2 linked regions of the Homo sapiens genome follow. The gene in region 1 interacts genetically with each later gene. Each region holds a gene or a part of one and is shown on either strand. Other genes may lie near its edges.

The links. A genetic interaction does not mean that the proteins touch.
Region 2: changes in TRAPPC13 (region 1) and SEC24C together harm fitness less than expected from each alone (positive genetic interaction), as found in Homo sapiens cells (one large-scale study listed by BioGRID).

What each region holds. Positions count from the first base shown.
Region 1 is NC_000005.10:65,659,527-65,663,026, reverse strand, and holds part of TRAPPC13 (trafficking protein particle complex subunit 13), read right to left. Parts: intron 2,329-3,500; coding exon 2,130-2,328; intron 978-2,129; coding exon 877-977; intron 1-876.
Region 2 is NC_000010.11:73,754,372-73,757,871, forward strand, and holds part of SEC24C (protein transport protein Sec24C), read left to right. Parts: intron 1-3,500. UniProt on the Homo sapiens protein: Component of the coat protein complex II (COPII) which promotes the formation of transport vesicles from the endoplasmic reticulum (ER).

The DNA.
Region 1 (3,500 bases):
AATAATTCCAGTCCAGTGAGAAAGAGACTAATACTTACAGTAATATATGAGTGTCACTAAATACACAATATATGAGTGTCACTAAAAAACTAAGTTAAAATTTTCTATGATGGAGAAGGCATGAATACCTGTGCTTTGGAAAGTCTAGGTAGCTTCATAGAGGAAGTGGGTATTTCTGTAATTTTGAAGGATAAATATTTCCTATCTTTCTAATACCAAAAAGAATAAATATGGAATTAAAAGGATTATACATTCACACTAAGAGGACTAGGATTCATCACTGCAATATTATAAAAATACCCCAAATAATAATACAAACCAAGTGGTAATACAAGTAGGAGCAGAGGGCATAGGACTGGAACTTAATTCTATTTTTTTCTGGTTTCAAAGCCCTGTGCTCTTTGCTTCCTGACAGTTCAGATTATGCTCTCTCTTTACTGTCAAAACCCAGTTTTCGAATCAATGATCTCCCCTTACATTAAATCCATAAGCAATGTTTGGTTTCTTAATACTCAAGATACAGCTCAAGTACAAGCATGCCTCAAAAAATCTTGCTACTTCAATTCATAATATATTAATACATAAGAACCTATTAGTTCATGTTTTGGTGAAGGAAGTATAAACAATGAATACCTACCTCATAGGGTGTGACAAATGAATGAAATAAAATACAGAAGATGCATAATACAATAGGCCCTTAAAAATATGTAATTATACTGCTACCAGATGAAGAATTTTACAGTACTCAATATCAACATCAGAGAAGGCTGTATGTCAAGAGGAAAACTTAAAAGGAGATAGTAACAAAAAGATTTTAAAATTATCTTCTAGGCAGGTGAGGTAGAAAGGACATCCATCTACAAACAGTGGCATTACCTGCAGTTTGTTATTTTACAGGTAATATGAAAAGGTTCTTCAAGGTTTACGGTATCTGGTATTGCCTCCAAAGACAACCTAACATCTCCATAACCTGGAGCCTAAGAAAACAAGCAACACAGTTAATGTATATCTATCACAAAACCTTTCCATTTTAATGAAGGCACCACAGCAGCACATTTACTCAACAGCTGTTGGGTTTCCAAGCTGATGTTCTAAGAAAATACTTCTGATTCACTTTACTTGTCTCTCATTTTAAATTCTTTTGCAGCTACTGCCTGTGGAATAGCCTGGCAGACCTGGACTGTTTTTGTTATATAATTATTCCATGTTCAGTAGAGTTAAGATGAATCTCACAGGTAAGTAGTCAGTAAAGAAATTTCAGGGAGTTGAAGGGACACTTTCCAGATGCTGTAGCTTCTATGTGTGTAACTCTAAATAGGTAAAGTTATTTTCTAAAGAAAGAGGGGGATGATGTTGAAAGGAGCCAGGAAGAAAATCATGACTTTTTACAAGACGCACAGATGAGGATGGATTATAACAACACGAAGGCTTGGAACAGGCCATGGCAGAAAAATAACTAACGGCTATATTTAAGTGGGCCCAGGAATCATCATCATCATTTTTTAAAAATTATTGCCTCAAACAGTGGAAAGAAAAGTAAAATTTGGAATATGTCAAAACAGGTAATATTCAGCATAAAGGGAGGAGAATCCTGTCGTATATTCTTACAAGCATAAGAAAAAGAAGCCTGGTAGCTATCCCTACTCTCAGAGAAGAAATTAGGTAAAATATGCAACCAATGCTTATAAGATAACTTTAGTAGAACTCACCTTCTGAGGAGATGCCTCAGATTTTTAACATCTTAAAAATGGTAGGAACTGAGTAGGTGAATGAAGTAAGTCCAAGAGTTTCAGGACATTGCAAAATAGAAAACCTTAATGTGTTTGGAAATCAGAAGAAGAGTGAGCATGTGTTACCAAAGGAGAGACACTTAATAACAGTTATTTTAATTTCTGTGTGATAAAGAACACGTGTATTAAGGATAAATTAACATTTGACCATTTTTCATTCATGGCAACACCAGTCTTCGACCTACCTATCAGTGACACTATTAATCTTTTCTGCTCCAGTAGTAGTAATGCCTTTTATAGTGCTCCAATTTTTTACTGCTGGATGTAGAAAAAATTAAGTTGTTCTAACTACCTGTCTTTCACACACCAAAACCCCAGCGAAGTTTTTTCCAGACTCACCATTCTTTGAAGTTGGCTGGTCTGTAACCTTCCCCTTTCACCTAGATTTGTTTTCCATACTATATCCAATTTTCCAATTACTGTTACTCCCTTAATGATGCCTGCTTTTTCTGCAAATTCATTCTTTGGCTTTAGGCAGTATAAGTACTGGCGTGTATCCATTGGTTGCAAATATGCTCTTGACCCAAACGTAGACACACTGAGAGGGGTGGAGACAGAGACGGAGAAAATTCTCTAGCATCTTTTAAAAGAAAAACCATGGCTGTGATTGTTCCTTTGGATAGGAACTGGATGATGTACCCTCCAAAGATCAACAACAGAACATGTTAACGATTTCAATACAAATAAAAAGAACGTATACTGCAATGATTTATTTTTCCTTCATTTTTTTCAGTTGATATCGAAAATCTTGAGGTTCTTTATAGTAATTGGACCCCGAAAGGCAGGGGTCCCTTTTTTTTTTTTTAAATAATTTTAAGAGACAGGGTCTTGCTCTGTCACCCAGGCTGGAGTACAGTGGTATGATCATAGCTCACTGTAACTTCTAACTTCTGGGTTCAAGGAGGTTCTTTATAATAGAATGTAATATATTACTTATAAAATTGAACATGTATCAATTAACTGAAAAGTGCAACAGAAACCAGAACCTTAAGTATCCTGTCTCTTTTCTCTAAAATTATCAAAGATAAGAGTTTAGAATAATAAGAGACATACCATTCTAAACTAATTTTCAAAATGAACTAAAACATCTAGAAAAGAATGGAAAATTGTTTTCCTCAGTGAGGATGAAAGAGGCTATGAACTTTTCTGTGTGTAACCAACCTAAGAATATAAAAGCAAACTTTTCATTCCTAATTAAGAAATTCAGATGCTATCCCAAGCTATTACCTTCTTCTTCTTCTTCTTCTTTTTTTTTTTTTTTTTTTTTTTGTTTAAAATACAAGGTCTCTCTCTGTCACCAGGCTGGAGTACAGTGGTGCAATCATGGCTCACTGCAGCCTTGAACTTGTGGACTCAAGCGATTTTCCTGCCTCTCTCCCAAGGAGCTAGGAATGCAGGAGTGTACCACCATGCCCAGCTAAATAAAAAAAATGCCAAGTTGCCCAGGTTGGTCTAGAACTCATAGCTTCAAGCAATCCTCTGGCCTCAGCCTTCCAAAGGGTTAGGATTACAGGCATGAGCCACCACACCCAGCCTATTACTTTCTTATCTGTATTATTGTCAACTTTACATTTATTCTTCCTCTTTTAAATTAGCTGTGGAAAGGTGTATGTATTTCCTTTTCACAAAGTATTAAACCATCTATTCCTATGTCCTTTTCTTTTGATGTTGAGAGAGTATTTCTTTTTTTAAACCCACATTCACCCTTAC
Region 2 (3,500 bases), on another chromosome or scaffold:
GCCACTGCACTCCATCCTGGGCGACAGAGTGAGACTTCGTCTCAGGAAAAAAAAAGTATATGGGAGGTTATATGCAAATATGATGCCGTATAACCCACATCCAATTCTATTGATTCCACCTTCAAGATGTATCCCAAATCTCACTACAGTCATTCCTCAGTATCCATGGGGGAATGGTTCCAGGACCTCCCCTGACCAACAGATACCAAAATCCACAAAGGCTCAAGTCCCTCATATAAACTCTATTCAAGTAGAGATGTTAGGTAGGCAGGTGCATATACAAATCTGCAGCTCAAGACTGATGCTAGGACTGGAGATAAAAATTTGGGAGTCCTCAGTCTATAGATATTTAAAGCCGTGGGACTAGATGAAATCATTTAAAAAGTGAGTATTGAGATTAAAGAATGGAATTGAGGACTGAGACTTGGAGCTTAGCAACATTTAAAAGTAAAGAGGAGCCGCCATTAAAAGACAATGAGGGGCCAGGTGCAGTGCCTCACTCCTGTAATCCCAGCACTTTGGGAGGCTGAGGCAGGCAGATTGCTTGAGCTCAGGAGTTCGAGACAAGCCTGGGCAACATGGTGAAACCCTGTCTCTACCAAAATACTAAAATTAGCCGGGTGTGGTGGCACATGCCTGTGGTCCCAGCTTCTTGGGAGGCTGAGGTGGGAGGATGGCTTGAAACCAAGAGGCGGAGGTTGCAGTGAGCCGAAATCGCACCGCTGCACTCCAACCTGAATGACAGAGTAAGACCCCATCTCAAACAAACAAAAAAAAAACAAAAGACAATGAGAAAGAGCAGTAGTGAGGTGGGAGATAAGCCGGGAGAGTGTGGTGTCCTGAAGTCAGGTGAAGAGAGTATTTCAAGAAGGTGAGAGAGTAATCAGTTGTGTCAGATGCTGCCAAATTGTAAGATGAAGATGGAGAATTGACCATTGAATTTGGCAAGGTTGGCGTCATTGGTAAAGGCAGTTTCAGTGTAGAGATAAAGAAAACTACCCAGTTGGAGTGAGTCAGAGTTTCAGGCCAGGCGCGGTGGCTCATGCCTGTAATTCCAGCACTTTGGGAGGCCGAGGCGGGTGGATTACAAGGTCAGGAGATCGAGACCATCCTGGCTAACACGGTGAAACCCCGTCTCTACTAAAAATACAAAAAATTAGCTGGGCGCGGTGGCAGGCTCCTATAGTCACAGCTACTTGGGGGGCTGAGGCAGGAGAATGGCGTGAACCCAGGAGGCAGAGCTTGCAGTGAGCCGAGATCTTGCCACTGCACTCCAGCCTGGGCGACAGACAGCGAGACTCCGTCTCAGGAAAAAAAAAAAGTTTCAACCGGGTGGTAGATTGACATAATCTGAAAACCCTCTGCTACCAAAGTCTAGAAAGGAGAGAGAAAATAGAAACAAAAAAAATTTTTAAGTGCAAAGTTAAGCTTGAAAGAAAATGTGAAATTCTTAAGTTTTAGAGACCAAGTGAGGACTGAAAATCTTTTTTTTTTTTTAAATACAGAGTCTTGCTCTGTCGCCCAGGCTGGAGTGCAGTGGCACGATCTCTGCTCACTGCAACCTCTACCTCCCAGGTTCAAGCGATTCCCCTGCCTCAGCCTCCCAAGTAGCTGGGACTACAGATGTGGGCCACCATGCCCGGCTAATTTTTGTATTTTTAGTAGAGATGAGGTTTCACCGTGTTGGCCAGGCTGGTCTCAAACTCCTCGCCTCAGGTGAACCGCCCACCTTGGCCTCCCAAAGTGGTGGGATTACAGGCATGGGCCACTGTGCCTGGCCATCAAGTGAGGACTGAAAATCAGAGTGGTAAATTGACTCTGGAGCTGCCTGTAGATTGGGTGGATTCATCATCTTGAGAAGCCAGGGCCTTAAATTTAAGCAGGTACTGGGGAAGGCAGATGAGTCCTTGGGCTTTCCTGAGAGTAGTTTTGGAACTGAGACATTGTTTATAAAGTCTGGACCTGGGCTGCACCTTCATTGAACAAGCTGACTAGGGGAAAAAAGTCTGCACGCTGGAAAGGGGAGATAAGGAGTGCTGTTTCTCTCAGGCTGGCTGTGGATGGGTGAAAAAAAAAGTTCTTGGGACTGCAAATGGACATGACATCTTTTTGGAATGATGAAAATGTTTTAAAATTTGATTCTGGTGATGGTTGCATAACTAAATTTACTAAAAATCATTGAATTGTTCACTTGAAGTGAATTTAATGGTATGGAAATTACATCTCAGTAATATTTTTTTTTTTTTGAGACAGAGTTTTGGTCTTATTGCCCAGGTTGGAGTGCAATAGCACGATCTCAGCTCACTGCAGCCTCTGCCTCCTGGGTTCAAGTGATTCTCCTGCCTCAGCCTCCCAAGTAGCTGGGATTCCAGGCATGACCACCATGCCAGGCTAATTTTTTGTATTTTTAGTAGAGACAGGGTTTCACCATGTTGGCCAGGCTGGTCTTGAACTGACCTCAAGTGATTCACCTGTGTTGGCCTCCCAAAGTTCTGGGATTACAGGTGTGAGTCACTGTTCCTGGCCAATTTTTTTTTTTTTTTTTTTTTTTTTTTTTGAGATGAAGTCTCGCTCTGTCACCCAGGCTGGAGTGAAGTGGTGTGACCTTGGCTCACTGCAACCTCCACCTCCCAGGTTCAAGTGAATCTCCTGTCTGAACCTCTTGAGTAGCTGGGATTACAGGTGTGCACTACCACGCCTGGGCTAATTTTTGTATTTTTTTAGTAGAGATGGAGTTTCACCATGTTGGTCAGGCTGGTCTTGAACTCCTGACCTCAAATGATCCATCTGTCTCGGCCTCCCAAAGTACTGGGATTACAGGCATGAGCCACTGCACCTGGCCTAATTTTTTTTTTTTTTAAATTAGAGGCCAGGTGCAGTGGCTCATGCCTGTAGTAATCTCAACACCTTGGGAGGCTGAGACAGGAGGATCACTTGAGGCCAGAAGTTTTAGACCAGCCTGGGCAACATAGGGAGATCCTGTCGCTATAAAAAAAAAAAAATAGCTGAGCATTGTTGGTGTGCCTGGGAAGCAGAGGTGGAGGCAGGAGGATTGCTAGAGCCCTGGAGGTTGAGGCTACAGTGAGCCATGATGGCTTCGCTGCACTGTGGCCTGGGTGCCAGAGTGAGACCCTGTCTCAAAAACTAAAAAAAAAAAAAAATCAATCTAGGGTGACACTGTCATTATTGGAGTACCTTCTGGAAACAAATGTAGAACAACCACACCTCAGTCCGGGCTGGAAGGGATTATCGGAGAAAGGCACTTTGATTAGAGTTGGGCCAGGCACAGTGCTCATGTTTGTAATCCCAGCACTTTGTGAAGCCGGGGTAGGAGTTCAAGACTATCCTGGGCAGCATAGCAAGACCCTGTCTCTACAAAAAATAAAAAAAATTAGCTAGGTGTGGTGGTGTGTGCCTGTGGTCTCAGATACTTGGGAGGGGAGGCTTAGGGGGAGGATTGCTTGAGCCCAGGAGGTCAAGGCTGCAGTGAGCCACAGATA